Homo sapiens: one gene and its partners. The protein of the gene in region 2 purifies or fractionates together with the protein of the main gene of each other region. This does not show direct contact. Each region holds a gene or a part of one and is shown on either strand. Other genes may lie near its edges. The genes, in order: AKR1A1, SNX3 and PPIL3.

Region 1 (11,000 bases), on a different chromosome or scaffold from region 2:
TTCTTCTCACCCCACTTCTGTATATTCAACGCCCTCTGGACCTCTCCACTAGTATGTATAGGCATCTGAGATTCGCCATGTCCAAAACTGTACTCATCAAATCCAGCAGTAGAGTACAGAGGAAACAGTTTAGGCTGTGGGGCTACGCAGACCTGGGTTTGAATCTCAGTTCTGATATTTTCAAGAGATACTATATCTAAAGCACCTTGCACAGGGCCTAACCCATGCTCTTCTTTCTGTATAGTCATCCCGTGGTATCCACAGGAGATTGGTTCCAGGACCCCTTCAGATACCAAAATCCTGGGATGCTCCAGTCCCTTATATAAAATGGCATAGTATTTGCATAAACCTAAGTACATCTTCCTGTATATTTTAATCAACTCTAAATACTTATAATTCCTAATACAATATAAATGCTAAATGCTAGGTAAATAGGTGTTATAATTTTTTTTTTTTTTAGACACAGTTTCACTCTTGTTGCCCAGGCTGGAATGCAACGGCGCAATGTCGGCTCACCGCAACCTCCGCCTCCTGGGTTCAAGTGATTCTCCTGCCTCAGACTCCCGAGTAGCTGGGATTACAGGCATGCGCCACCACGCCTGGCTAATTTTGTATTTTTAGTAGAGACAGGGTTTCTCCATGTTGGTCAGGCTGGTCTCGAACTCCCGACCTCAGGTGATCCACCCACCTTGGCCTCCCAAAATGCTGGGATTACAGGCGTGAGCTACCACGCCCGGCCTATACTGTATTTTTTTATTTGAATTTTTAAAGTTGGTTTTTGTTCCCAAGTATTTTTGATTCTAGGTTGAATCCGCAGATGCACAACTTGTGGATAGAGTGTTGACTTTGTACTCTATCTCACCAAAAGACCAAAGCCCTGGATAACAAGTGTTAAAGCAAACCAGACAACATGTTGATAGTATAATCCATTTGGGCCTTAAAAAAAAACATCTGGTTGCGTGTGGTGGCTCATGCCTGTTAATCCCAGCACTTTGGGAGGCTGAGGCAAGCAGATTGCTTGAGTCCAGGAGTTCGAGACCAGCCTGGGGGACATGGCAAAACTTAATCTCTACAAAAAATATGAAAATTAGCCAGGCATAGTGATGTGTCTCTATGGTCCTAGCTACTCAGGGGGCTGAGGCAGGAGGATCCCTTGAGCCTGGGGGGCAGAGGTTGCAATGAGCTGAAATCACACCACTGCACTCCAGCTTGGGCCACAGACTGAAACCCTGTCTAAAAAATAAATAAATAAAAGCCATCTAAAGAAAGTATTTGTAGTTCCTTGCAGGCATTTATGAGTATTATCAGATTATGGTTTTGATAAGTAGTTGGTGAGGAGAGTATTTTCTCCTGTACTTTTCTTTTTGAGACAGGGTCTCACTCTGTTGCCCAGGCTGGAGTGCAGTGGCCCATTCATGGCTCATTGCAGCTTCGAACTCCTGGACTGGAGCAATCCCGAGTAGCTGGGACTACAGGCACATGTCACCACACCCAGCTTATTTATTTACTTATTTATTGAGACAGAGTCTCGCTCTAACGTCCAGGCTGGAGGGCAGTGGTGTGATCTCAGCTCACTGCAAACTCCACCTCCCAAGCTCAAGCTATCCTTTCCATTCAGCCTCCCAGGTAGCTGGGACTAGAAGCATGGGCCACGATGTCCAGCTCATTTTTTGTGTTTTTCGTAGAGACAGGGTTTCTCCTTGTTGCCCAGGCTGGTCTGAAACTCCTGGGCTCAAGTGGTCCTTCTGCCTCAGCCTCCCAAAGTGCTGGGATTATAAGTGTGAGCCACTATGCCTGGCCTTATTTTTCTTTTGTAGAGATAGGGTCTCACTGTGTTGCCCCCTCAAACTTCTAGCCTCAAGTGACCCTCCCACCTTGGCCTCCTAAAGTGCTGGGATTACAGGTGTGAGCCACCACACCTGGCTTTCTCCTATACTTCTTTTTTTTTTTGAGACGGAGTCTCGCTCTGTCACCCAGGCTGGAGGGCAGTGGCGTGATCTCGGCTCACTGCAAGCTCCGCCTCCCGGGTTCATGCCATTCTCCTGCCTCAGCCTCCCGAGTAGCTGGGACTACAGGTGCCCGCTACCATGCCCAGCTAATTTTTTTGTATTTTTTAGTAGAGACAGGGTTTCACCATGTTAACCAGGATGGTCTCGATCTCCTGACCTCGTGATCCGCCCACCTCAGCCTCCCAAAGTGCTGGGATTACAGGCATGAGCCACCACACCCGGCCTCTCCTATACTTCTAGAAAAGCCAGCTTGGAAAATCACCTTACATATGTAATGTTGGCCAGATTTTGTCAGTTTAGCTGGGTTTTAAATCTTGTTAATACTTAATAGCTACAGAAAAAGAGAATGCTCTAATATGTAACCTAAGACCTAAGATTGCAATAATGCTTCCTGTACTTCTTGATGTATGTGAAAAGAATTTTAAAATATATATTCCTAAATCTTTCTCTAGTCCATCCATATCTACCTCCACTGCCACTGCCCCATCTCTGACCACCACCACTCTTTTTTTTTTGAGACAGAGTCTCGCTCTGTCGCCAGGCTGGAGTACAGTGGTGTGATCTCGGCTCACTACAACCTTCGCCTTCCAGGTTCAACCGATTCTCCTGCCTCAGCCTCCCCAGTAGTTGGGACTACAGGCGCATGCCACCACACCCAGCTAATTTTTGTATTTTTAGTAGAGACGGGGTTTCACCATGTTGGCCAGGATGGTCTCCATCTCTTGACCTCGTGATCTGCCCGCCTCAGCCTCCCGAAGTGCTGGTATTATAGGCATAAGCCACTGTGCCCAGCCTTTTTAAATTTTTTTTTGAGACAGAGTCTCACTCTGTTGCCCAGGCTGGAATGCAGTGGCATGATCTCGGCTCACTGCAATCTCTGCTTCCCGGGTTCAAGTGATTCTCCTGCCTCAGCCTCCCCAGTAGCTGGGATTATAGGTGTGTGCCACCACACCCAGCTACTTTTTGTATTTTTAGTACGGAGAGGGTTTCACCATGTTGGCCAGGCTGGTCTCGAACTCCTGACCTCAGGTGATCCACCCACCTTGGCCTCCCAAAGTGCTGGGATTACAGGCATGAGCCACTGTGCCCAGCTGACCATCACTCTTTACTTAAACCACAGATCTTGGCTTCCAGAGTGGTCCCTCTTCCCGCAGTCCATCACCAGATCCAACCATGTGACTCCCAGTCTCAAACCCTTCCAGCAATTCTCCCCTATATTCAGGATAAAGTCCAGGCTTCTCAAAACCTGGCTTCTATCTTTCTCATTTCACCACCTCCTCATGTCAGACTGTATTCCAGACTTTGAACACTCAACAGGGTCACATCACTTACCTGACTCTAGGTGTGTGCACTTTCCTTCCCCAAACCCTACCTTTGCCTGGCTAGCTGCTGCTCATCCTTCAGCTAGCACTTCACATTTCTGGCTCCTTTCCAGGTGCAGTGGCTCATACATGTAATCTCAGCACCTGGGCAGGCTGAGGCGGGAGGATCACTTGAAACCTGGGCAACAAAAGGAAACACTGTCTCTACAAAAATTTGTTTTTTTCTTTCTGAGTCTGCTTGCTAGGGGGAATTTTTTTTTTTTTATTTTAAAGATTAACTGGGCACAGTGGCATGTAGTTTATAGTCCAAAGGCTGAGGTGGCAGGATTATTTGAGCCCAGAAGTTTGAGGCTGCACTGAGCAAGGATTCCACCACTACACTCCAGCATGGGCAAAAGACCGAGAGACCCCCATCCATCTCTAAAAAGAAAATAAATAAATAAATAAATGGATGGCTACTTCCATGTACTGATAGCATGTGCACATCACTACATTTTTCTGTTTATATATAAATTTCCCCCACAAACCTGGCTACTCCTTGAGGTCTGAGCCTGTCATCTGCCTGAACCCCTCACTCCTAGAGTACCTGTCCCATACATACATACATACATACATACATACATACATACATACAATGTACACAATACACACACCACACACACACAGCTTATGGGGGAGAGATCTTGACAGGTTGAGTTTGGCCAGCTGGAAGGACATTTGAGGAAGTCGCTGCCTCTGTCACCTTCTTCCTTTACCTGTTGGAAAACCTGAAAAGAATCCTCTTGGAGAATATCAAAGCACTTTACTATACTCGGCAAAAAATCCCAGTGGACCAGATAGAATCATACTGAGATTGCTCCTGTATTAAAGATAAGGAAACAGATCTTGGAAAAGTAACAGGCCTGCAGCCCTGAGTATGAACGATCTGAAGGGGAAGAGTTAATTAACAGTAGCCTCATCCAGTGAAGGTTCAGATCTGTGTCTTACTTTAACAGAGTTCTGGGGCAACAGAATAACATGTCAGACTTTCTCAGACCCAAAGCAGGTGTCTAAGTAAGAGAATTATCCCCACTTCTCCCCACTTCTGAGAACTATCCCTGCACCTGCATAAGAAAGCCGGAGCAGCTGGAAAAAGCACATAGGTGAGCAAACAAAAAGATGGCAATTAAAACTTGCAGATCACCTAGTATGCGCTGTGCGCCTTCAAAGCTTTATCTCAATTCTTGCTACAGTTCTAATGTAGGACCTCATTTTATTGCTGAGGAAACAGGTTCAGAGAAACTGGGAAGTTAGCAAGAGATCATACAGAGAAAAAGAAGAGCTCAAATCCGAAACCAAGTCTCGTCCCCTCCAGTGCTCTGCGCTCTCCACTCAACCCCAGGGGCTTACATTTCAGTAGTAAAGAATCGAGGCCATCTCCTCCGGGAGAAAGATAGGCCAGCAGCAAGAGAAACTCACCTTGGCACAAGCACAGAGCGTGAATAGGGTACTGTGGCCTGGGCTCAGTTCTGCACCCCGCCAGAGATCCAACGATCCTCAGCTTAAGTCTGGCGGTGAGGGGGAAGTTCCACCCGGAGGGAGGGGCAGGGGCCGGGCATAAAGGATCACGCGCAGGGTGGACCGCCTTCGCCGCCTCCCGAGGAAGGACCTGAAGGGGATGGAAAACAGAGCTGGGAGGTAGTACCGTCTCCACCTCTGGATCCTCGAGGTCGAACTGGCCGGAACTTGGTCACTCACTCCGCAGCGCGGGTTTGGAGAACTCCTGGGCACAATGAGGCAGGTGGCGCTGGCCACGTGGGCGGTGCAAGGGGCGGGGCCAGCCTCGCCTTTTGCTGGCCCACATTGCACCGCGCGCCTAGGCGCCGCCGCAGGCGCTTTTCCGGGGGAAGTAAGGTAGCAGATGCCACGTTGCAGGTTCTTCTGGTGTCGGCCCTCCGGATTCACAATGCCATCCGTGGCTCCATACTCTCCCTAAAGTCAGGTTGGCTGGATTCCCAAAGTTCACCTAAGTTGGCCCCGTTACATTTAGTTCAAGCAAACTGAGGCCCAGAGAGCAGCTGCAACACCAAGATTGGCCAGAATACAGAAGACCTCGCGTCTGCAGATCCAGGCGCTGGAAAGTGCCTGGTCCCCCTGTCTGGACCATAGACCCCGCCCAGCACGTTATGTGCCAGGCACTGTGCTTAACACTTAATAAACATGGTTTTATTGAATCTTCATAATAATCCTGGAAAAGGAATATTCCTTTTTTTTTTTTTTTTTTGAGACGGAATCTCGCTCTCGCCCAGGCTGGAGTGCAGTGGCGCGATCTTGGCTCACTGCAACCTCCGCCTCCCTGGTTCAAGCAATTCTCTGCCTCAGCCTCCCGAGTAGCTGGGATTACAGGCGCCCGATACCACGCCTGGCTAATTTTTTTGTATTTTTTAGTAGAGACGGGGTTTCGCCATCTTGGCCAGGCTGGTCTTGAACTCCTGACCTCGTGATCCACCCGCCCTGGACTCCCAAAGTGCTGGGATTACAGGAGTGAGCCACTGCGCCTGGCCGAAAAGGAATATTCTTTTATTTCGTACAAGCCTTTTTAAAAATCGTAGTATAGCATATATACAGAAAATACACCAGTCTTTTTTTTTTTCTTTTTCTTTTTTTCCTATTCTACATCCAGGAAGAAAGAAAATGTATAAATCTTAAATGTATACAGTTCTTTTTTTTAAATTATTTTTTGCAATGTAACTGCCATCCAGAGGAAGATATTACCAGCACACCATAAGCCTGTGAGGAAAGTATTCATAATCCATTTTACAGATTGGACAGACTCAGCAAGGTTAAGGCTATTTATAATTTTCCCAAAGTCACACAGGTATTAATTAAATGACACATCTGCGATTTGAAATAGTCTGTGCTGTTTGAGTGGAGAGGTGTCTTGCATGTATGTGTTTTCCTTGGCAGGGATGGGCAAGACACAGGGTTATCTCGGTTTGGCTCTGCTTTTCCCCACACCTTTACTCCCTGAGAGCAACTCTTCCCATTTCCCCACCCCCGTTATCCCCCACTGTCTCCCCAACATAAGTGATGTCCTGGTGGACCAAATGTCTAATGTATCAGGCCATCCTCATAAAAACAATCAGACTTGGCCGGGTGCGGTGGCTCACGCCTGTAATTCCAGCACTCTGGGAGGCCGAGGCAGGCGGATCACCTGAGGTCAGGAGTTAGAGACCAGCCTGACCAACATGGAGAATCCCCGTCTCTATTAAAAATACAAAATTAGCCGGGCGTGGTGGCACATGCCTGTAATCCCAGCTACTCGGGAGGCTGAGGCAGGAGAATTGCTTGAACCTGGGAGGCGGAGGTTGTGGTGAGCTGAGATTGCGCCATTGCGCTCCAGCCTGGGCAACAAGAGTGAAACTCCATCTCAAAAAAAAAAAAAAAAAAAATTCAGCTAGGCGTCGTGGCGCGCACCTGTAGTCCCAGATACTCAGGACGCTGAGGCAGGAGAATCGCTTGAACCCGGGAGGCGGAGGTTTCAGTGAGCCGAGATCGAGCCACTGCACTCTAGCCTCTTGACAAAGCGAGACTGCCCCTCAAAAAAAAAAAAAAAAAAAAAAAAAAAAAAAAATTAGCTGGATGTATTGATGCGAGCCTGTAATCCCAGCTACTTGGGAGCCTGAGGCAACAGAATCACTTGAACCAGGGAGGCGGAGGTTGCAGTGAGCTGAGATCGCGCCACTGCACTCCAGCCTGTATTCAAAAAAAAATAAAATAGGCCAGGCATGGTGGCTCACGCCTGTAATCCCAGCACTTTGGGAGGCCGAGGTAGGCAGATCACCTGAGGTGAGGAGTTCGAGACCAGCCTGACCAACATGGAGAACCCCCATCTCTACTAAAAATACAAAATTAGCCAGGTGAGGTGGCACATCCCTGTAATCCCAGCTACTCAGGAGGCTGAGGCAGAAGAATCACTTGAACCCAGGAGGCAGAGGTTGCGTTTGGCAAGATTGTGCCATTGCACTCTAGCCTGGGCAGCAAGAGCAAAACTCTGTCTCAAAAAAAAAGGGGCCGGGCGCAGTAGCTCACGCCTGTAATCCCAGCACAAGGCGGGCAGATCACGAGGTCAAGAGTTCGAGACCAGCCTGGCCAATATGGTGAAACCCCGTCTTTACTAAAAATACAAAAATTAGCTGGGCATGGTGGCACGCGCCTGCAGTCCCAGCTACTCAGGAGGTTGAGGGAGGAGAATCGCCTGAACCCAGGAGGCAGAGGTTGCAGTGAGCCGCACCACTACACTCCAGCCTGGGTGACAGAGCAAGTCTCCGTCTCAAAAAAAAAAAAATACGTAAAAGAAGAACCTACAGGCCAGGCACAGTAGCTCATGGCTGTAATCCCGGCACTGTGGAAGACTAAGAAGGGAGGATCACTTGAGCCTAGTAGTTCAAGACCAGCCTGGGCAATATAGTGAAACCTCATCTCTACAAAAAATATAAAAATTAGCTGGGCACGGTGGTGCACACCTATAGTCCCAGGTGTTTAGGAGACTGAAGTGGGAGGATTGCTGGAGCCCAGGTCTTCGAGGCTGTAGTGTGTCATGATTGTGCCATTCTACTCCAGCCTAGACAACAGAGCAAAACCTTGTCTCTTTTTTTTTTTCCCCTCAAATTCTTTTTACCAAGGACCCTGTCTAAAAACAAACAGGCCAGGTGTGGTGGCTCACACCCGTAATCCCAGGACTTTGGGAGACCGAGGCGGGCCAATCACCTGAGGTCAGGAGTTCGAGGCCAGCCTGGCCAACATGGTGAAATCCCATCAATACTAAAAATACAAAAATTAGCTGGGCATGGTGGCAGGTGCCTGTAATCCCAGCTACTTGAGAGGCTGAGGCAGGAGAATTGCTTGAACCTGGGAGGCAGAGGTTGCAGTGAGCCGAGATGGTGCCACTGCACTCCAGTCTGGGCGACAGAGCAAGACTCCATCTCAAAAATAAATAATAATTTTTAAAAAACAAAAAAACAGAAGTGAGCAAATAAGAATATAAGAACAACCACTTTATTGAGCATCCACTACTTACCATAGTCTTTATATTCATGTTGTCTGATATCCACAGCAGAAACTTTTGGATTTGGTGGACATGAAGATCATTGGTGACCAATGTGGAGAGCTCCTTCAGTGGAATGGTTAATCCTGAGCCAGATGACCTGAATTCAGGAATGAACAGGAGATGAAGACATGGAGAATCAGAGGAAGGACTTCTCAAGGATACAGTAAAGGCCAGGGACAGTGGCTCATGCCTGTAATCCCAGCACTTTGGGAGGCCAAGGCAGGCAGATCACTTGAACCCAGGGGTTCTCAAGATCAGCCTGGGCAACATGGTGAAATCCCATCTCTACAAAAAATACAAAAATTAGCTGGGTATGGTAGCATGCACCTGTGTTCTCAGCTACTTGGGAAGCTGAGGTGGGAGGATCACCTGAGCCTGGGAGGCCAAGGCTGCAGTGAGCTGTGATCGCACCCACCACTACAAAGCCTAGGCAACTGAGTGAGACCCTGTCTCAAAAAAAAAAAAAAAAGTAAGAGGAAGAAAAGTTATGGGTTAATAGTGACTTGATGCAGATGGAGGGAGAGTTTTTCACTATGTGGGAAATGCGAGCATGACCACGTGCTAAGCAGCGGGGAAGGGTCCAGTGGAAGAGACAGGAGATATGAAAGTGGAGAAAATGATGGAGGGAAGCTGGGCGCGGTGGCTCAAGCTTGTAATCCCAGCACTTTGGGAGGCCAAGACGGGTGGATCACTTGAGATTAGGAGTTTAAGATCTGCCTGGCCAACATGGTGAAACCCCATCTCTAGTAAAAATACAAAAAATTAACTGGGCATGGTGGTGCACGCCTGTAATCTCAGCTACTTTGGAGGCTGAGGCATGAGAATCCCTTGAACTTGGATGGTGAAGGTTGCAGTGGGTCAAGATCATGCCACTGCACTCCAGCCTGGGTGACAGAGCGAGACTCTTGTCTCAAAAAAAAAAGAAAAAGAAAAAGAAAAAAAATAATGGGATAATTGTGGGGGGGATCATGGATCATACATTTAGCTAACATTTACTTAGCATATACTATGTCCTAGTCCTTTCACTGGGCACAAAAATGGACCAGCCTTGGCCGGGCACGGTGGCTCACACCTGCAATCCCAGCACTTTGGGAGCCAAGGTGGGAAGATCACTTGAGGTTAGGAGTTTGAGACGAGACTGGCCAACATGGTGGAACCCCATCTCTACTAAAAATAGAAAAATTAGGCACTCATTCTCTTTCCTGCCACCCTGTGAAGAGGTGCCTTCCACCTTGATTGTAAGTTTGCTGAGGCTTCCCCAGCCATGTGGAACTGAGTGACTCCATCTGCAGCTTTTATTAGAAATCAAGGGAAGCCACCAGAAGACGGAGCACTGAATGAGCTCTGCGGAGCTGAATCATCTAACCTGACCTCCAATTTAGAAGAAAGCCCCTCTGTGCGCACCTGCTAACCTGCCTGTCATCACCCTCACAGCTGTGCTGGGTCAGTGTCACAGACTCACCCATTCCAGAGTTACCATCTGATATGTGTAGGCTCATATGAAAAGTATGCTGTAATGTGAGGAAATAAATCCGACGGAAAAACAAAAATCAAAACAAACAAACAAAAAATACAAAAATTAGCCGGGTGTGATGGCAGGCACCTGTAATCCCAGCTACTCAGGAGAAGTGCTTGAACCCAGGAGGTGCAGGTTGCAATGAGCCAAGATTGTTCACTGCACTCCAGTCTGAGTGACAGAGTGAGATTTCATCACAAAAATTTAAAAAAAAAAAAAGGACCAGCCTTGTTCTCTGCCTTCAAGGTTCACAGTCCAGAGGGGCTAATGTAGAACAGGCAGAATGCATACCTATGTGTGTGTGCAGGGTTGGCCTTGTGTGGCGACAGAGGAGGCTGAAACAGATGAAGAGCTAGAAAGTGAGAATGGCTGTCTAGGAAGGAGAAGGGAGCATCCCTTTCTGGACAACTAGGCAGGAGGGAGGGAAAGGTTAAGTTCTCAGCACCCCTCACTGAACGTTTTAGCATTTGGCAGGGGTTTCTAGACCCTAAGAGGAATGTGGCCAGGTAGAAGAGATGAAGAAATAAATGCCTGCTGTCCAAGTCTCTGAGTTTGTCCCGGAGCTACCCCAGTGACTTATTTGCTGGCACTTCCTGCTTACTGTAGGCTAGGCTGTCTGAATGAGAATGAAGAACAGAGTTCAGGTTCCCAGAGGACCCATATACGAAGCAGGGCGATAAGGGGGCCTGAACAAGATCTTGACTTTATGCGTGGACCTTCTAGTGACATTGTAATGAGCGCACATTTAAGGAACATATTTAAGTTCCTTCTAATCCCCTATTAGGGCCGAATCATTCCTAAACTCTGGCCAGCTCTGAAACCAACTTCACAAGACCTGACTCATTTCCCCCAAGTAGTGAAAGTCCCTACACAGGTAGCTACTGGAAATGGCCCTGGGCCTGTGCACTGAGGCATTATTCTCCCTCTCAGGCCCCTCAAATCCTGTGGTCCCATTCAAGTGGCTGCTGAGAGCCAGCAAGGCTGGCACCAGGCCCTGGGGACTGCATTATGCAGTCAGCTACCTCATCTTTTGGGATCTGAGCTCCAATCCCCAATCCCACCAG
Region 2 (10,630 bases):
AGAGATACTAATCAAGTGATCCTAATAGTCTTAAACACTATCCTCAAACCAAAAGATAAATGGAGATTGGGAAACTTGCATTCTAAGTGCCACCATCCATATAAAATTGCCCTGTGAATTAGAGTAATTTCAATCAGATCCTGTAAAACTGTAAATTTTTCTCAAGACCAGAATGAGACAGTAACTGTAAGATAGTTTAAAAGCCCAAATTCTGGAACATAAAATGGTTTTCCACATAGCAAATTCAACAGCAAAAGGTAGTCAGTAGGGGTTCGGGAGAGCAGCAACATTTAGAAAATAATAAATAAAATTGCAGGGCTGGGTGAGGTGGCTCATGCCTGTAATTCCAACACTTTGGGAGACTGAGAGGGGGAGGGCCACTTGAGGCCAGGAGTTCAAGACCATCATGGGCAACATAGCAAGTCTCATCTGACAAAAAATAAAAAATTAGCCAGGTATAGTAGTACCCTGTAGTCCAGCTACTTGGGAGGCTGAGGCGGGGGGAATACTTGAGTCCTCGAGTTTGAGAATGCAGTGAGCCACAATCATGCCACTGTGTTCCAGCCTGGGCTACAGAACGAGACTCTTATCTCAAGAAGAAAAAAATTACAAAATATTAAACTATTCATGTCATAGCCACTCTGCCTTAATGCAAGACTATAATTACTCTAAAAAATCATATGCTGCTCAAATAAGGCCTAATTTCCTTACTATATGGTGTCCTTAGTTTTAAGTTAACACATTACATACTAAAAGAAATCCAGGCTGGGCATGGTGGCTCACGCCTGTAATCTCAGCACTTTGGGAGGCCAAGGTAGGCAGATCATGAGGTCAAGGGACTGAGACCATCCTGGTCAACATGGTGAAACCCCGTCTCCACTAAAAATACAAAAATTAGCTGGGCGTGGTGGCGCGTGCCTGTAGTCCCAGCTACTTGGGCGGCTGAGGCAGGAGAATCGCTTGAACTCGGAAGGCAGAGGTTGCAGTGAGCCAAGATCGCGCCACTGCACTCCAGCCTGGCGACAGAGCAAGGCTCTGTCTCAAAAAGAATAAAAATAAAAATAAAAAAAGAAAGAAATCCAAAGTCATTTCATGCATTAAAAACTCAATTAGGTTTTCACATAGGCACTGGCATTTATGACTGTTAACAGCTATTAACACCCAGTGAGTTGGTTTATACAAAAATACAAACCAAAGTAAGTGTATAATTTGTTAGTTCCCTGACTCATTAATCGTTCTTAAAAAAGATTATTTTCAGGCCAGGCGCGGTGGCTCATGCCTGTAATCCCAGCACTTTGGGAGGCCAAGGCAGGTGGATCACGAGGTCAGGAGTTCAAGACCAGCCTGACCAACACAGTGAAATCCCATCTCTACTAAAAATACAAAAATTAGCCAGGCGTGGTGGCGCATGCCTGTAATCCCAGCTACTCAGGAGGCTGAGGCAGGAGAATCACTTGAACCTGGGAGGCGGAGGTTGCTGTGAGCCAAAATAGCGCCGCTGCACTGCAGCCTGGGCAACAGAGCGAGACTCCGTCTCAAAAAAAAAAAAAAAAAATTTTCTTTAACATGTAAATGACTATACCAAAACCCTTTTTTCTCTCTCTCCTGAGATAGGGTCTCATTCTGTTATGCCGGCTTGAGTAGAGTGGCCTCATCATAGCTCTCTGCAGCCTCGACCTCCTGGGCTCAAGTGATCCTCCCACCTCAGCCTCTGGAGTAGCTGGGACCTCAGGGATGCGCGCCACCACGCCCAACTAATTTCTTTTTTTGTGGGGAAGGGGTTTCAACGTGTTGCCCAGGCTGGTCTCAAACTTCTGAGCTCAAGGGATCCACCTGCCTCAGCCTCCCAAAGTGCTGGGACTAGAGGCATGAGCCACTGCGCCAGGCCCAGAAACCATTTTTAAGTGTCACATCAGCTATTTGCTAAGGTATTAGGTGTATTAAAAAAAAAAGAGGATTAAATTATTATACTAGAACCCATTTAATATAATGCATTCAGCAAGATAAACTCAAAGTAAGTGGAGGAAGTGTAGGCAGGAGATTCCAATTCAGTTTTGTGACAGGAAGTACCTGCTATGGAAGTATAGAAACAAGAATACCAAGTTCTGTTTTAGCACAAGAAAGAAAAAAAAAGAAAATACTAGTGAATAGGGCAAAAGAGGAAGTTCTTTTTAGTGAACCATCTGTCATGTATTACAGACAATTAGAAAAACATTCACTTTTCCACTAGGTTTATGTATGAATGTAGTTCCCCAGGTGTACTGAAGTCTGGATTTTGCAGTTTCCCTATGACAACATATCCTATGATTCAATTTTTATTTATTTATTTAGAGAAGGGATTTTGCTCTTGTTGCCCAGGCTGGAGTGCAATGGCCCGATCTAGGCTCACGGCAACCTCTGCCTCCCCAGTTCAAGAGATTCTCCGGCCTCAGCCTCCCGAGTAGCTGGGATTACAGGCATGCGCCACCACACCCGGCTAATTTTGTATTTCTAGTAGAGATGGGGTTTCTCCATGCTGGTCAGGCTGGTGTCGAACTCCTGACCTCGGTGATCCGCCCAGCTCGGCCTCCCAAAGTGCTGGGATTACAGGCATGAGCCACCGCGCCCGGCCTATGATCCACATTTTACACATCCATAAGAAGACAACAGTGGCTTGAAACATTAAACTATTCGTTTCATATCTTAAAGTTTGATTAACTTTTTAAAATCAATGCTAACTACGTAAGAATCATTTTTTAAAAATACTTAAGTTTCACAACAATGTGAATATACTACTGAGCTGTATGTACACTTAAAAATGGTTAGGATGGTAAATTTGATTTTTGTGTTTTTCACGACACAAAGTGTGTAAGTTAATGAGAATTTTTTCACTTAAATGTTAATAGTAGCTTGTCATATAAATTTTGATTAAAGGAAAAATCGCTTTACACTTAACTTTTAATAATTTGCTGTCATCTTTAAATTAATGTAATTAATTTTTAAAGATGCTTCCATACATGGGCAAATTCTTTAATCCTGAATTATAGAGTGAAAGTGAAGCACTATTTTCAATTAACATCTTTCAAATCATCTAAATTATTGCCAACAAATACTAGTTATGAAATTAGGTATATTTTATTTCTGTTGATTTCTTTATTCAATTAAGTGCAAATCTCGAATTAAGAGAGCAAGATCCCTAGTCTTTTCTTAAAGCAACTGTAGTTCTGGATTATGAGGTAGGTGACACCACACCTCAGCCTTTGGCAGGGCGGTGGCCCAAAATGCTGAAGTCAACCATGTCCAATCACCCTTCTGGTCTGGCTCAGCCCTATCAAAAATTGTCAGGCTTCTGTGAACTTTCATTAAGTCCCGTTCAGAAGACTGCACAACCCAGGTTACTTTAGCAGCTCGGGAAGGGCCTGGAGCAGCCGGGTTGGCTTGCTACCTCTGGGAAGTCTCCAGGAAGAGAAAACTGGGAAAAGGCTTTAACTTTGCGCAAGCCCCTTTTCTCTGTCAACATCTCTTTCCCTTCCCAGCGAAGGGATGTGTTCTCGAAAGATCTACCCCTTTCCAACTCAAATGTCATTCCCTGATCAGCTGCTGGAGGGGCAAGCGGCGCTCAACCCACGCCCTCCTCTTCGAGCACCTTCTCCAAGTGCCAGCGCGCCGGGCTCGCTCTGCAGCCCCCCACACCAGCCCTACAGGAAGAGGGGCCCTGGCTCACGACCCCGGCCCGCCTCTGCAAGGGGGCTCCCGGCCTGGGAGGCTGTGGCTGCCCGCGGGGGTCCACTCCCGGGTCGAGTGGGGGTGACCAGAGCCAGCGGGAGGGGTTTCTTGGGAGAGGGGAGAGACGGCCTCACCTTGACCCTGATTTCGTAAGTGGTGAAGCGGCCCCGGCCGACCCCCACCGTTTGCGGGTTGCTCACATCGATCTCGAGGAAGTTGCTGGGGGGTCCGTAGGCGTCATTCAGGTTCTGCGGCTTGGTGATCAGCCGCCGGGTGTCAGCCACGGTCTCCGCCATTTCGCTGTAGCTGCTGCCGCCGCCGCGGGCTCCCTCCGCCCCCTCCGCGTTCAGCCGCCGCCGCCGCCGCTGCTGCCCGCCGTGGGGACACGGGGCTCGCGCGCAGCGGTCGCGAAGAGAACGAGCACGTAGAGCGGGCGTTCACCCCGCACGCGAAGCTCCTCCCCGCGCCCCTCAAGCTTCCGCCTCCGAGCCCAGGGGAGAAACGGCTCACTAGCTGGAACGCCACGCCCGGCTCCCGGGAGGCCCGGCCGAGGCTGGGGAGGGGCACTGCGGACTGGGGTGTGAGGAGAAGCGGTGTCATGGGACTCGGGGTCGCAAACAGGTTCCGGCCGGACTACAGCGCCCACAATGCACCGCGAGCGCGCCGCCGCGGGGCTGCGGCCGAGGAGGCGAGGACCCAGACGCCCAGAGCTGGCGCTTCCTGTCTCTCTGCGCCAGCCTCGGCCTGCGGCGGGGTAGAGCGCCGGAAACGGCTTTAGCGGCTTTGGGAATTGCGGGCGAAAGTTAAACGGAGAGATCTTAGAGATTTGCCCGCAAATCGAAACAAAACTGCCCCTACTAACTCTGTGCCAACCTGTGCACCGTCTCACTGTGAACCCCTGAAAATGCCTTTCTGGAGAAGGTTAAGCAAATGCCTGAGATGATTTTGCCATAAACCCGAGCGTTGCACCAGACACGCGTCTGGATTGATAGGTTGAAACCAGTAAAGTGGGGGAGTGAAATAAAAACTAAAGCCCTAGTTAAATCCTAGCATTATGGTCAAATCGATTTTGGAGACAGGTCGGTCCGCTAAAACAAAGTAACAGTAGACCGGCTGCAAGCTGCTTTGGGTGTCCACTTTCGTTTCTCACGAAGTCCTGATAAGTTTTTTTTTTTTTTGAAAAGTATTAAACGTACCTCTACAGGACTGGAAATGCAACTCACATGAGCCTTTTTAAGAAACGGGGAGGAAGGCCGGGCACGGTGGCTTATGCCTGTAATCCCAGCACTTTGGGAGGCCGAGGCGGGCGGATCACGAGGTCAGGAGTTCGATACTAGCCTTGCCCACATGGTGAAACCCCATCTCTACTTAAAAATGCAAAATTAGCTGGGCGTGGTGGTGCGCGCCTGTAATCCCAGCTACTCTGGAGGCTGAGGCAGGAGAATCGCTTGAACCCGGGAGGCAGAGGTTGCAGTGAGCTGAGATCTGCCATTGCACTCCAGCCTGGGTAATAGAGTGAGACTTTGTCTCAAAAAAAAGAAAGAAAGAAACGGGGAGAAAACCCAATTAATTAGGTCCTAGTTCATCTCTTATGGTCCAATGGGAAATGCAGATTTTAAATGTTGAGATACGATACATTTCTATCTCTGCCCAGAGAGTTATCCCTCACAACTATTTCTGCATTTTTTAATATGTCAAGTTTAACACTATAATTACTTTAAATAACCTGATCTTCCCCGCCCCCCTTTTCTTTAGATTTTAAATTATTAGTAATTATTTGTGGAGACGGGATCTCACTGTGATTCCCAGGCTGGTCTCCAACTCCCAGCATCAAAGTGATCCTCCCGCCGTGGCCTCCCATATGTGCTGAGATGACAGGTATGAACCACCGTGCTTGGACTGATCTGTCCCTTGAACTGCAAATTTCTTTTCTTTCTTGCTTTTTTTTTTTTTTTTTTTTTTTTTTTTTTTTTGAGACGGAGTCTCGCTGTGTCGTTCAGGCTGGAGTGCAGTGGCGCATCTTGTCTTACTGCAATCTCCACCTTTCGGATTCAAGCGATTCTCCTGCCTCAGCCTCCCGAGTAGCTGGGATTACAGGCGTGCGCCATGACACCCAGCTAATTTTTGTGTATTTTCAGTAGAAACGGGGTTTTGCCTTATTGGCCGGGCTGGTCTCGAACTCCTAACCTCAGCTGATCCGCTCGCCTCAGCCTCCCAAAGTGCTGGGAGTACAGAAGTGAGCCACCGTGCCCGGCCAACAGCAACCATTCTTAATAACACTAAGAAACACTGGAATAAAAAGAAATTACTTGGCCGGGTGCGGTGGCTTGCGCCTGTAATCCCAGTACTCTGGGAGGCCGAGGCGGGCGGATCACCTCAGGTTGGGAGTTTGAGACCAGCCTGACCAACATGGAGAAACCCCGTCTGTACTAAAAATACAAAATTAGCCGAGCGTGATGGCGCATGCCTGTAATCCCAGCTACTCGGGAGGCTGAGGCAGGAGAATTGCTTGAACCTGGGAGGCGGAGATTGTGGTGAGCCGAGATCGTGCCATTGCACTCCAGCCTGGGCAACAAGAGCAAAACTCCATCTCAAAAAAAAAAAAAAAAAAAAAGGCATTACTTAAATACAATGTATATTATTTTCCAGAAAACAACATTCATTTATTAATTCAACAAATATTTGTTGAAGACCTACTAGATGTTTTCATTCTAAGTACTAGAAATGAAAGGGTAGATAAGTCAGGTTTATAGCCTAGTATATAGTCTGTCTTAGGGAGACAATTCAGTAAATAATACACCTGCCAATATAATTGGTGCTATGAGGCAAATAAAACTGAATAATGTGACAGATAGTGACAGACAAGCTCATTAGATATTAATGCTGGGCATGTCTCCTAATGCAACAGACCAAATGGGAATTTGACTGGTATGATTAGAAATGTAAGCTCAATAAATACATATCAATGACTCTGAATTGAAGTCTATGCAAGCTAAGAGACCAGGAACTACTGTATTATGTTGTCATCGGTGACACCTGAACAAAGCAATCATGGAATATTCTCATAGAATGCTTCTGTCTGATTCCTTGGCGACCACTCAGGGCAGCAGTGGGCAGCCAGAACAAATGCCTGCAGTGGGGAAGCGGCTAGGAGGGACAGCAGCACAGCATCATAGCACAGTTGTATAGCCAAAGAAGACCTTCTTGGTGTAAATATCAGGAAAAAAAATTATCCTTATTTTTCAGGAATTGTGATTGCATTTCTAGAATACAAATCCAGAAATAATAAGCTACTAGAATTAACAAGAGAATGTAGTGGCAAGACAGAAATAAAGAATGTAATAGCTTTCCTTTGTCTATGCAATATCTAGTTAGAATGGAAATGGAAGAAAATACCCTGTTTGCAAGTGACCAGAAGTACAAAATATCTAGGAAGGAAGGGATAGGAACTATAAGGAGCAAAGGGAACATAGGACTAAAACTATGAAATTGTATTCAAAGATGTAAGACAAAACCTAAAGAGAAAAGAGTCTATGTTCCTGGATGGGAGGACTTAATATCAGAAAAAGTCACTATCTAAAATTAATAACTTAATACAATTAGAATCTCAATGTGGTTAGTTTTACTCACCCACTCCCACCTTGGATGAGTGGGTGGCACTGAGTCAAGTTTTTTTTTTTTTTTTTTTTTGAGACAGAGTCTCACTCTGTCACCCAGGCTGGAGTGCAGTGGCACAATCTCGGCTCACTGCAACCTCTGCCTCCAGGGTTCAAGCTATTCTCCTGCCTCAGCCTCCCAAGTAGCTGGGACTACTGGCGCCTGCCACCACGCCCGGCTAATTTTTGTGTTTTTAGTAGAGACGGGGTTTCACCATGTTGGCCGGGCTGGTCTCGAATTCCTGACCTTGTGATCCGCCCACCTAGGCCCCCCCAAAGTGCTGGGATTACAGGGGTGAGCCACCGCACCTGGCCCAAAGGTTTTATCATTCAGAAATGGCAAAACTAGGCTGGGCGCGGGTGCACGCCTGTAATCCCAACACTTTGGGAGGCCGAGATGGGCGGATCATCTGAGGTCAGAAGTTTGAGACAATCCTGGCCAACATGGTGAAACCCCGTCTCTACTAAAAATACAAAAAAATAGCTGGGCGTGGTGCCGGGCGCCTGTAATCCCAGCTACTCGGGAGGCTGAGGCAGGAGAATGGCTTGAACCTGGGAGGCAGAGGTTGCAGCTGAGCCGAGATTGCGCCACTGCACTCCAGCCTGGGTGACAAGAGCGAGATTCTGTCTCAAAAAAAAAAAAAAAAAAGGCAAAACTAGCTCCAGAGTTTATATACTTACCAATATTTTACGCTGCCTCTTAGGCAGAAAATTCAGATGGACAATAAGCATAAAAAAGAAATGAAATTACTATCAGCTGACTGTTTAGTGCGCTCAGAATAAAGACGAATTGATAATCTTAATGGCCAGAGCCTTCAAATTGTGATAATTAATACTCTACTCAAATGACACACCTCTCAGGGCACCCACAGCAATACCAGTATACAGACAATGTATTTTTCTAGAATTAGGCCACTTTAGGAAAACATAAAATTGATGATAGTTTTCTAACATTTTAGCTTATCCTTAGAATATGTTCATGTCTTCTCCTCCTACCTCCACTTCAACTGCCACTATACTCAAACTCACTAATCATATAAATGCACATTAAACATGAAATACTTTTTTCTGTCTATCAAAATGGCAAAAATCCAAATGAACAGAAACACACAGTAGGAAAGTAGGAAAACAGGCATTCATATTTCAATGACATGAGTATGAATTTTTACATCTTTTTGGAAAAGTAATTTGATAATATTTATCAAAAGTAAGACTATTAGAGTAGTTTCACCTGCAAATCTTAACTTTTGCTGCAAGAGACCATGGTACATAAGGTTGTAAGGGCAAGGATGTTTATTGCATCTTTGTTTGTAGTGGCAAAAACTGGAAACAGCTCCAAGGCTTATCAATTTTTTAAAAAGCTTGAATTAGGCTGGGCAATGGCTCATACCTGTAATCCCAGCACTTTCGGAGGCCAGGTCAGGCAGATCAGTTGTCAAGACCAACATAGGGAGACCCCATCTCTACAAAAAATTTAAAAATTGCAGGGCATGCTGGTGTGTGCCTATAGTCCCAACTACTTGGGAAGCTGAGGTGAGAGGATTGCTTGAGCCCAAGAGGTTGAGGCTGCAGTGAACTATGATCATGCCACTCTACTCCAGCCTAGGTAACAGACAAGGACCTTGTCTCAAGAAAGAAAAAAAGAAAAAAAAAAAAAAAGAAAATGCTTGAATTATAGTATGTTTAAAGTGTGGGAAATTGTATAATGATTAGAGTAAATGAACTAGTTATATTTTCATTTATTAGAATACTCTATTATTTAGTTATTAGAATTAGAGGAGGACTATCCATGATGTATTGGTGAAAGCACAGAATCCTAGCCACTAGACTACCAGAGACCATGATATTGGTAAGTGAGGATCACAAAATAATCTGTCTGCTATAGTCCATTTGGGTAAACAAATAAAACCGTATCAGTAGGCTAGCCACAGTGGCTCATGCCTGTAATCCCAGCACTTTAGGAGGCTGAGGCAGGTGGATCATTTGAGGTCAGGAGTTCGGGACCAGCCTGGCCAACATGGTGAAACCCAGTCTCCACTAAAAATACAAAAAAATTAGCTGGGCATCGTGGCGCATGCCTGTAATCCCAGCTGCTAGGGATGCTGAGGCAAGAGAATTGCTGAACCCAGGAGACAGAGGTTGCAGTGAGCCGAGATCACGCCACTGCACTCCAGCCTGAGTGACAGAGTGAGACTCTGTCTCAAAACAAACAAAAAAACCCACCCTATCAGTGACTATATGTACATTTATATTTGTATATGTTTATATGTGCATGGGGAGAAGGAAGTATAGAAGGATATACGCCAGGGTGTTAGTGCTGGTAGCTTAAGAGGGTGGCAATTAAAGTGGAGGTAGGAGGAGAAGACATGAACATATTCTAAGGATGAGGTAAAATGTCAGAAAACTATCATCAATTTTATGTTTTCCTTAATGGCCTAATTCTAAAAAAAATAAGTTGTCTGTGTACTGGTATTGCTGTGGGCAACCTGAGAGGTGTGTCCCTTGAGTAGAATATTAATTATCACAGATTGAAGGCTCTGGCCATTAAGATTATCCATTCCTTAGCTGGGCATGGTGGCACATGCCTGTAATCCCAGCTACTTGGGAGGCTGAGGCAGGAGAATCACTTGAACCCACGAGGTGGAGGTTGCAGTAAGCTGAGATCGCGCCATTGCACTCCAGCCTGAGCAACAAGAGCAAAACTCCGTCTCAAAAAAAAAAAAAAAAAAATTATCCACTCCTGGCTGAGCATGGTGGCTCATGCCTGTAATCCCAGCACTTTGGGAGGCCAGGGTGGGCAGATAACTTGAGATCAGGAGTTCGAGACCAGCCTGGTCAACATGGGAAAACTCTGTCTCTACTAAAAGTACAAAAATTAGCTGGGCACAGTGGCATTCACCTGTAATCCCAGCTACTCGGGAGGCTGAGGCAGGAGAATTGCTTGAACCTGGGAGGTGGACATTGCAGTGAGCCGAGATCATGCCACTGTACTCCAACTTGGGTGACACAGTGACACTCCACCTCAAAAAATAATAATAATTAATTGGTATTCTGTTTAATCAACCAGTCCCTTGTGAACTTGATTAATGTGTCACTTCCTCAAAACCTGATTACTTCTAAAGGAAAAGGATAAAACCAAGTCACTGAACCTCTGAAGTGTCAGACTCTGGAATTATGGCTATCAATGAAAAGAGTCAAACTGTGTGAAATATTTGAAGAGATTTATTCTGAGCCAAATATGAGTGACCAATAGCCCATGATACAGGCCT
Region 3 (10,360 bases), on a different chromosome or scaffold from region 2:
GCCACCACACTCGGCCTCCAGGACCTCTGAGAGCCTTTACTGTAAACCTAAAGATCACACCTGTAATCCCAGCACTTTGGGAGGCCGAGGTGGGCAGATCATGAGGTCAAAAGATCAAGACCATCCTGGCCAACATGGTCTCTGTAAACCCCGTCTCTACTGAAAAAAAAAATACAAAAAGTAGCTGGGCATGGTGGTGTGCACCTGTAGTCCCAGCTACTTGGGAGGCTGAGGCAGGAGAATCACTTGAACCTGGGAGGCAGGGGTTGCAGTGACCCGCTGCACTCCAGCCCGGGTAAAAGAGCAAGACTCCGTCTCAAAAAGAAAAAAAAAAAAATCAGAGAAAATAGCAAATGGATTGGCTGGCCTTTCCAGACTAACTTTTTATCCTGTCCCTCCTCTTTCTAACTGTATAAAGTGAATAATTAATGGTAGAGCTCTTACCGTTAGTATCAGTTTCAGGAATACCCAAATTTTCAGATTTGGGGATACTTGCATATACATAATAAGATATCTTGGAGATGAGACCCAAATTTAAACATGAAGTTCATTTACGTTTCATATATACCTTATACACATAGCCTGAAGGTAATTTTACACAATATTTTAATTAATTTGTCCTACGATTTAATTCTTTAAAACTTTTTAAATTTTATTATAAAATAACACTTCCAGGATACGGACTTGCTGTGGGAGGAATATGTAATCAGGCCACTCAAAAATGCCTGCACTTGAGGCTGAGCATTTAAAAATGAATGTTCATATGTAACAAAAATTAAATGATGTATTTTTTGTATTAAAATTAAAGAAATATGTTGGATAATCATTATAATAAAGAATATGCTCTAAGAATGGGGATAAAAGCTGTTGGGCGCCCCTTGGTACCACCATTTCATAGAAGATCATAGTTGTAAACAAGCAGAAGGATGATGCAATCTCTGACATAATTAAAACCGGGTAAACCACAATAAGTGTGTTCCAGCAATTTGTCAAGTTATTTGTCCAGGTCTATCATAGCTACTGAGCAAATGGGTTGGCATGAATAGTTATGTCCTTAATGTGTACATCATTAAGAGGTCGGTATGTCTTCTCATTTACTGGCAACTTCTCCAACTCATCTAGAGTTTCCAGACCATCTATTACCCTGAAAGAGAAACAACATAACATATGAAAATTTCCTTAAATTGAAACATGATATCCATATCTATGACAATTACAGTCTCCTTAAAAAATAATCAAGTCTTACAGATCTCTGAGTTCTCTAGTTGAATGTACAACAAAATGTTGATTTTCCATCATAGATATGGATCAAAATTCAGAAATAATTTACTTTTATGCCCTTAGTCAACAATACAAAGGGTAGGAATATTTCCACCATAGTACCTAAAATTATATTCTACCCCATTCATACAGTGACAGAGAACAGCTACAAATGGGACTAATATAACCAGTTAAAGGGAAAACAAACTGTTTTTCTACACTTTCATACTTCCAACACCAAATGTGTGGGTTTTCCCAGTTCTCCAATTCTCTGGGTATCCCACAACTTGATTATTTTTTCAAAATTTTATTTAATTTTTTAAAGACAGGATCTCACTGGGACTACAAATGCATGCCCCCACACCTGGCCCTATAATTTAATTGTGACACTAACTACAAGGAGTGAACAGAGACCCCGGTTAATCCCACAAGACAGCCCCTACCACTTCGGATGCCAGTTCCAAGTCCCGATTGTGATCTGTACTATCTGACTAACCATGATATAATTTGGGATTTTTCATGCCCCCCAGCTCTGTTCAATAATTTTCAAAAATGGCTCATAGAACTTAGGAAAGCACTTTATTTATTACTATGGGCTATTATAAAGGTTACAACTCAGGAACAACCAAATGGAGGAGATGCATAGGGCAAAGTCTGAGAGAGGGGCACAGCGCTTCCATGCTCTTCTCGGGGTGTGTTACCCTCTTAGTATCTACTTGTGTTCACCAACCTGGAAGCTCTCAAACCCTGTTTAGGGTTTTTACGGAGGGCACATTAGGTAGGCACGATTAATTAAATCACTGGCCACTAGTGACTGGAACTCAATCTCCAGCCCTTCTCTCCTTCCCAGAGGTCAAGAATAGGAGGTCACTGAATGTTCCACCCCTCTAAAAATACATGGCTGATTCCTCTGGCAACCAGCCCTCCATACTGAAGCTATCTAGAACCCCACCAAGAGTCACCTCATTAGCATAAACTCAGGTATGGTTGAATGGGGTTTATTATGAACAATAAAATATTCCTTTCACTCCTGTCACTCAGGAAATTGCAAGGTTTTTAAAAGAACTATGCTGGAAACCACGGATGAAGTCCAAATATGTATGTCTTATTACAACACACTAGTCATAAAGATTTCTTTGCTACAGGAAATACATGGAGAAAGTATGTAGATGACACTATTAGCAATACTGCCCTACAATGAGAGTCCTAAAGTAGGTGACCACTCCACTTTGTACTTGTTTTTTTTTTTTTTGAGATGAAGTCTCGCTCTGGTCCCCCAGACTGGAGTGCAATGGTGTGATCTCGGCTCACTGCAACCTCTCCTCCTGGGTTCAAGCAATTCTCCTGCCTCAGCCTCCCAAGTAGCTGGGATTATAGGAGCCTACCACCACGCCTGGCTAATTTTTGTATTTTTAGTAGAGACGGAGTTTCAGCATGTTGGCCAGGCTGGTCTGGCCTGACCTCAGGTGATCCGCCCGCCTTGGCCTCCCAAAGTGTTGGGATTCAGGCATGAGCCACCAAGCCCAGCAGTTAATTGTTTAATTATAGTATTTCTTTCTTTTTTTTTTTTTTTGAGATGGAGTCTCACTTCCATTGCCCAGGTTGGAGTGCAGTAGCACTATCTCGACTCATTGTAGCCTCTTCCTTCAGGTTCAAGCAATTCTGCATCAGCCTCCCAAGCAGCTGGGACTACAGGCACATGCCCCCATGCCCAGCTAATTTTTGTGTTTTTAGTAGAGATGGGATTTCACCACATTGGCCAGGCTGGTCTCAAACTCTTGACCTCAAGTGATCTGCCCACGTCAGCCTCCCAAAGTGCTGGGGTTATAGGCATGAGCCACCACGTCTGGCCTAATTATGGCATTTCTACTTTTTGCTTCTGGATAACAACAAGAAGTAATAAAAATAGGAGAAGAGAAGACTGACAGTTAACAGCCTCCAGCAATCCCACTTCATGTTACCACCAAGAAAAAATATATTGAGAGCTATTCTTCAAATACAAGTTTTGGAAATTTCAGTCTAAAACATTTGCTAAGAAAGAGTGGCTTTTGATCTCTTGACCTCGTGATCTGCCCGCCTTGGCCTCCCAAAGTGCTAGGATTACAAGCGTGAGTCACTGCACCTGGTCATCTGACTGCATTTTGACTGCAACCCGTCACATGAGGTCAGATGTGGAATTTTCTACTTGTGGCATCATGTCAGTGCTCAAAAAGTTCCTAATTTTTAATTTTCAGATTAGGGATTCTCAACCACTGGTATGTACTTTAAAAAATTAACAGATTTGTAGGCCTGGCGCAGTGGCTCACGCCTGTAATCTCAGCACTTTGGGAGGCCAAGGCGGGCGGATCACGAGGTCGGGAGATTGAGACCATCCTGGCTAACATGGTGAAACCCCGTCTCTACTAAAAATACAAAAAATTAGCCGGGCGCGGTGGCGGGCGCCTGTAGTCCCAGCTACTTGGGAGGCTGAGGCAGGAGAATGGCGTGAACCCAGGAGGGTGAGCTTGCAGTGAGCTGAGATGGCGCCACTGCATTCCAGCCTGGGCGACAGAGTGAGACTCTGTCTCAAAAAAAAAAAAAAAAAAAAATTAGCAGATTTGCATTTTATTTTGCATTTTCACAAAATGGGTACTTCAACCAAAACATTTTGATTTTACCCCTAAATATAGACATTTAAGTCTTTAAATTATAAGTCTTAAAGGCTATCCCACCTTCTAGGTCAGTAAGAGAAACAGAGGAGGTAGAAAACATAGGTCTCAGGTAAAAAGTTAAAAAAACCCAGCAGGTAGAACTGAGGCAGTTAAGTAGAGTCAAGTATATGGGAAACGGACCCCTTGGAGAACTAGAGGAAAGTTACTGGATCATCTTCCCAGAAAAATGTGTGTGCATCTGTATACAACAAACAAGGAATTAATGAACCTAAGGTTAATCTTTGTTCTAAACTCTACAGTTTTGTCGCAAATCCAGTAAAATGAGTCCTGGTAATAACTGAACAATAATTTTGAATGATGTTGGTTAAGGGAGAAAATAAGAGGGAAACTGGGTTATTTACAAACATAAAAAAACTACTAGATGTTGTAATATTTCTTTTCTCCTTGATTATTATTAATGTGTAAATTAGATACATGTATATGGAATGAAAAAGAAAAGATCTGTCTAGATCTCACTGCAGCCTTGACACCCTGAGCCCAGCAATCCTCTCACTTCAGCCTCCCAAGTAGCTGGGACCATAGGTGTGAGCCACCACACCTGGATAATTTTTAAATTTTTTTGTAGAGACGGGGTTTCACTATGTTACCTAGACTGGGAGTCCTCTATTTTTAATTAACCTAATTTGGCATCCAAACTATTAAATAGAACAAACTCTAGAATTGTGCCTTGGTTTATTAAGCATGATAATTATTTGTTGAACGAACAGACAAATTGACTTCCCACTGATTTATAAAAGCAACTCCCAGACATAGTACTCTTAATAGATACCCTGGCAGAAACTGTGAAATACCTTCCTAGGAGCCATTCTTCTTACTCGGAGAAATCTAATTTTAGTAAGGGTGGCAATGTGGCTGAAATACATTTTCTACCCTCCATTGTAGGTAAGGAGTGGTCACATTACTAAGTTCTGGGTCTTCTGGGAAAGTTTTTTTTTTTTGAGACGGAGTCTCGCTTTGTCACCAGGCTGGAGTGCAGTGGCGCAATCTTGGCTCACTGCAATCTCCACCTCCAGGGTTCAAGCCATTCTCCTGCCTCAGCTTCCTGAGTAGCTGGAATTACAGGCACGCACCACCGCACCCAGCTAATTTTTGTATTTTTAGTAGAGATGGGGTTTCACCATGTTGGCCTGGATGGTCTTGATCTCCTGACCTCATGATCTGCCCTCCTTGGCCTCCCAAAGTGCTGGGATTACAGGTGTGAGCCACCGCACCCGGCTTTTCTTTTTTTCTATCTTTTTTTTTTTAGAGATAGGGTATCATTGTTGCCCAGGCTGGAGTACAGAAGTGTGATCTCAGCTCATGCAGCCTGGAACTCCTGGGCTCAAGTGATTCTCCCACCTCAGCCTCCTGAGTAGTTGGGATTACAGGTGTGTGTCACCACACTTGGCTAATTTTTAAATTTTTTTTATAGAGATGGGTTCTGCTATGTTCCACAGGCTGGTCTTGAACTCCTGGCCTCAAGTGATCCTCCTGTCTCAGCCTCCCAAAGCACTGGGATTACAGGCCTGGGAAAGTTCTGTTAATTAAAAAAGGTGAATCAGCTGGCAAGCACCTTTTGTCTTTCCTCCCCTTTCCTCCCTGATACACAGAAGTTTTGATAAGAGCTGTGCTGCCAATATTATGACAGAGGCGCCTAGAACACTGGTAACAAAATGGAACCACCATGCCAGTCCATCTTGTTTAAGCCACTATTTTTCAGATCTGTTAGTTGCTGTGAAATGCTATCATTAATGAAAATGGACCAGCCTGGGCAACATAGTGAGACCATGTCTCTAAAAAAAAAGTGTTTTTTTTGTTTTTTTTTTTTTTAAAGTAGCTGCGCATGATGGTACACATTTGTGGTTCCAGTTACTCAAGAGGCTGAGGTGAGAAGATCACTTGAGACCAGGAGGTTGAGGCTGCAATGAGCCATGACTGTGCTACTGCACCATACTCCAGCCTGGCGACAGAGCCTTTCGTCTCAAAAAAAGAAAAAGAAAAAGAAAATAGATATACTATGTTAATTTGCATAACAATATTGAAAAATTACTGGCCTCTTTTACAAAATAAGGAAAATAAAGCTCAGGGAGATTATAACTTTCCCAAGGTCACAGGGTTGCTAAGTGGTAGACTTAAACTCCAGGTACGTTTAGCTCTCACACCACTCTTCTTTTCTTTCTTTTCTTTTCATTTTTTTTTTTTTTTTTTGAGGCAGAGTCTCACTCTGTCGCCCAGGCTGGAGTGCAATGGCATGATCACGGCTCACTGTAACTTCCGCCTCCCAGGTTCAAGCAATTCTCCTGCTTCAGCCTCCTGAGTAGCTGGGACTACAGGTGTGTGCCACCACATCCAACTAATTTTTTAAAATATTTTTAGTAGAGACAGGGGTTCTGCCACATTGGCCAGGCTGGTCTCGAACTCCTGACCTCAGACAATCTGCCCACCTTGGCCTCCCAAAGTGCTGGGATTACAGGTGTGAGGCACTGCGCTCGGCCTCACTCTTTTCAATATTAGTTATGCTACTGTCACAGCTAAGCATATGCACCACTTGCATTGAAATGCTAAAAGAAAACCATAACCAGAATACTCACTTTCCAAATACGGTGTATTTCATGTCCAAATGTGGCTGTTTGCCATAGGTGATGAAGAACTGAGATCCATTGGTGTTCGGGCCATTATTAGCCATAGATACAACACCTCTAACATTGTGCTGAAAAAGACACATCAAAGTATTAACTGTGTTTTTATATAACCATCCCAAATATAGTATTGAAACAAGACAGGCACACCTTTGTTTTCTTTTTTAAAAATATTTTGAGATTGGGGTCTCACTATGTTGCTCAGGCTGGTCTCTAACTCCTAGGCTCAAGTGATCCTCCTGCCTTAGCTTCCAAAGTGTTGGGATTACAGGTGTGAATCAGCACACCCAGCCAAGACATTCAATCTTTACCTTCACAATATTTAAGGGAGCAAGAAAACATTTAACCAACTTCTCTCTATTAGGGATAATCCAAATGTTCAGTTTCTGCCTTTTCTGTACCTTTGAAAACTTGTATGTAAAAGGTTAATATATCAAATAATATTTCTCAATTAATTTCATTTTCACTTTGAAGAAATACAGCCATGGACACTTTTTGCAATACCAACAAATAATAGAAATAATCCTTACATTTATATTAAGGAATAGTGTGCTGGAATGAAATGATCAGGCAGGCAACAAAACCAAAATGCCCACAATCTCTTCTCACATACAATGGACTCTTGCTAGTTTCTTTATCTGTAAAACAAGGGAGGCTGGACTAGTTCAAGGGTCTATTTATAACTCAGATGCTCACAAGGGTCAAGCAGATAAACTGACAATTGGGCAGAATGTAAACATTAGAGAGAGATGAAGTCTGGCAAAATGAATAGGCTATCTCTTGATTAATGACATTAAATATATATTTTTTAACTAAGGGCCACAGATAATGCATCTGTGGGTGTTCCACTCATGGGCAGTCAGTTTATAACCCCAGGACTGAACGATCTAAGAAAGGTCTCACCTAGCTCTACTATCATGATAGTATTTGTTTACAAGAGACAGTGTATAGAAATTAAAAGGACCTTACTGATAAGAATGAAGATGTAACTGTGAACTATGTTACAGGGAGGTGCCTGTAATACACTACAACTCCACCAATTACTCTAGCTTTAGCTATTCATTGGGTGACGCTAATAAGTCATAGAGAAGCACCTATATCAAAATATTAATGCTTGTCTCCCTAAAAGGTGTCCACCAATCAAATGTAATATTAAATACACATGTAATATTTAATACATACACAATATTTAATACATACACAAAAATATAGTTAATAAAAATGTAAGTTAATAAAATAAGCACCCATTAACATATTTCCCAGCTTTCAGAGTTAAAATTTACCAATTCATTGAATAATGGGAGCTCAAGAAAAAATAAAAGTTACCAATTAATTACATATATCCATGTGCTCCTCTCCATTTATTACCTCAGCCTCTACAAGAGGTAACCACTATTCTAATACCTTTTTTTTTTCATTTTTTCATTTTTTTTTTTTTTTAGAGACAGGGTCTCACTCTGTCACCCAGGTTAGAGTGCAGTGGTGCAATCATAGCTCACTGTAGCCTTGACCTCCTAGGCTTGAGCAATCCTTCCACCTTGGCCTCCTGAGTAGCTGAGACTACAGATGTACACCTCCATACCTGGCTAATTTTTTAACTTTTAGTAGAGATGAGGGCTCAATATGTTGCTCAGGCTGATCTCAAACTCCTGGCCTCAAGTACTTGTTCCTCTCACCTCGGCCCCCTAAAGTGCTGGGATTATAAGAGTGAGCCACTGTGCCCAGCCCTAACACATTTACACATGCCTAAACAACACATTCTTTCCTTTTCCTTCTGAATATAATTACATCGTAACATTTTAGTCTTCTGGGAAATGCTTTCTACAAATAACATTGTTACATTTCTAAGGTTATACATGTACATATAGCCATAGTTTATTACTATTTTTTTACTACTATGTGATATTTCACTACTGAATATACTACAATTTATCCACAATCTACATAGTGATTCATCTACAATCAGTGGACATTTGGGTTGTTTCTAGACTTTTGCTATTACAAACAGTACATCAGAACACTCCTGTACATGTCTCTTGGTGCAAACTTACAAGTTTCTCTTGAGTAAACATTTGGGAATGGAATTCCTGGGCCAGAATATATGAAGAGTCAATACATATCCACAATCTTGGTGTATAAGGTGTATAATATAATGGTTCTTTTTTTTTTTTAGACGGAGTCTCGCTCTGTCGCCCAGACTGGAGTGCAGCAGCACGATCTCGGCTCACTGCAAGCACTGCCTCCCGGGTTCAGGCCATTCTCCTGCCTCAGCCTCCCAAGTAGCTGGGACTACAGGCACCCACCACCACACCTGGCTAATTTTTTGTATTTTTTGGCAGAGACGGGGTTTCACTGTGTTAGCCAGCATGGTCTTGATCTCCTGCCCTCGTGATCCGCCCGCCTCGGCCTCCCAAAGTGCTGGGATTACAGGTGTGAGCCACCGCGCCCGGCCTATATAATGGTTCTTAACTCTGCCTGCAAAAGAATCATCTAGGAACCTTAAAATATAGTCTAAGTCCTAACCAGCCCTACTGACTTTATTTTTAGGAGGGCAAGGCCATGATCTGTTATAGTTTTAAAACTTCCAGCCAAGTGCAGTGGCTCACTCCTATAATCCCAACACTTTGGGAGGCCAAGACAGGAGGATCATCTTAGTCCAGGAGTTTCAGACCAGACTGGGCAACAGAGCAAGACCTCGTCTCTACAAAAAATCAGAAATTAGCTGGGCACGGTGGTGCACTCCTGTGGTCCAGCCACTTGAGAGGCTGAGGCAGGAGAAACTGCTTGAGCTCAGGTCAAGGCTGCAGTGAACCGTGATCAGGCCACTGCACTCAGCTTAGGCAACAGAGTGAGACCCAGTCTCAAAAACAAACAACAAAGTTCCACAGGTGATTCTGTCATAGCCAGTCTCTGGTTTTCAGCTGGTATATGGAAGCAGTCATTAATGTAATAATTAATACCTAAAAAATTGTTTAGTTATTCATTCAGGAAAAAGTTGACTTTTCAAAAAGTTTATCACCTCCCAGCCTCAACTCCTGTAACAAAACTAATACATTTCCTTACAATAGAAAAGTAAAATGAACCAGCTTGGGCAACATAGTGAGACACCATCTGTACAAAAAATACAAACATTAGCCAGGCATGGTGACATGCACCTGTAGTCCCAGCTACTCTGGAGGCTGAGGTGGGAGGATCACCTGAGCCCAGAAAATTTAGTCTGCAGTGAGCCAAGAATGCATCACTGCACTCCAGCCCAGGGGACAGAACAAGACCCTGTCTCTAAAAAAAGGTTTTAAAAAAAGCAAAAAGAAAAGAAATTACTCCTAGTCTCATCATCCAGAGATAAACACTGCAATGAATTTTTTTCAGAATTTTTGTGGGTACATTTTAATGTAATGGAAATATAATAATACACTTAAACTGCATATTTTGATTGAGTAGACTTTTTTTTTTTTTTGAGTGGGGTCTCGTTCTGTGCATGATCTTGGCTCACTGCAGCCTTGATCTCCTGGGCTCAAGCAATCCTCCCACTTCAGCCTCTTGAGTAGCTGGGACTACAGGCACACGCCACTATAACAGGCTAATATTTGTATTTTTTTGTGGAGATGGGGGTCTCACTATGTTGCCCAGGCTGGTTTCAAACTCTTGGCCTCAAGCAATCCTCCTTACTGGGCTTCTCAAAGTGCTGGGATTACTGTACCCGGCCCTGGTTGAGGATACTTCATTGCTCTTTTTCTAATCATAAAGTTATCATTCTATGGAGATACAAAG

What was found.
Region 1: the proteins of SNX3 (region 2) and AKR1A1 fractionate together in Homo sapiens (co-fractionation; 2 studies listed by BioGRID). This does not show direct contact.
Region 3: the proteins of SNX3 (region 2) and PPIL3 purify together in Homo sapiens (affinity purification with mass spectrometry; 2 studies listed by BioGRID and IntAct, with this or other methods). This does not show direct contact.

What each region holds. Positions count from the first base shown.
Region 1 is NC_000001.11:45,544,945-45,555,944, reverse strand, and holds the start of AKR1A1 (aldo-keto reductase family 1 member A1), read right to left. Parts: upstream 5,120-11,000; 5' UTR 4,790-5,119; intron 3,510-4,789; exon of another isoform or gene 3,382-3,509; intron 1-3,381. UniProt on the Homo sapiens protein: Catalyzes the NADPH-dependent reduction of a wide variety of carbonyl-containing compounds to their corresponding alcohols.
Region 2 is NC_000006.12:108,256,921-108,267,550, forward strand, and holds the start of SNX3 (sorting nexin-3), read right to left. Parts: upstream 4,121-10,630; 5' UTR 4,002-4,120; coding exon 3,840-4,001; intron 1-3,839. UniProt on the Homo sapiens protein: Phosphoinositide-binding protein required for multivesicular body formation. Specifically binds phosphatidylinositol 3-phosphate (PtdIns(P3)).
Region 3 is NC_000002.12:200,870,378-200,880,737, forward strand, and holds the end of PPIL3 (peptidyl-prolyl cis-trans isomerase-like 3), read right to left. Parts: intron 6,661-10,360; coding exon 6,542-6,660; intron 1,145-6,541; coding exon 1,018-1,144; 3' UTR 530-1,017; downstream 1-529. UniProt on the Homo sapiens protein: PPIases accelerate the folding of proteins. It catalyzes the cis-trans isomerization of proline imidic peptide bonds in oligopeptides. May be involved in pre-mRNA splicing.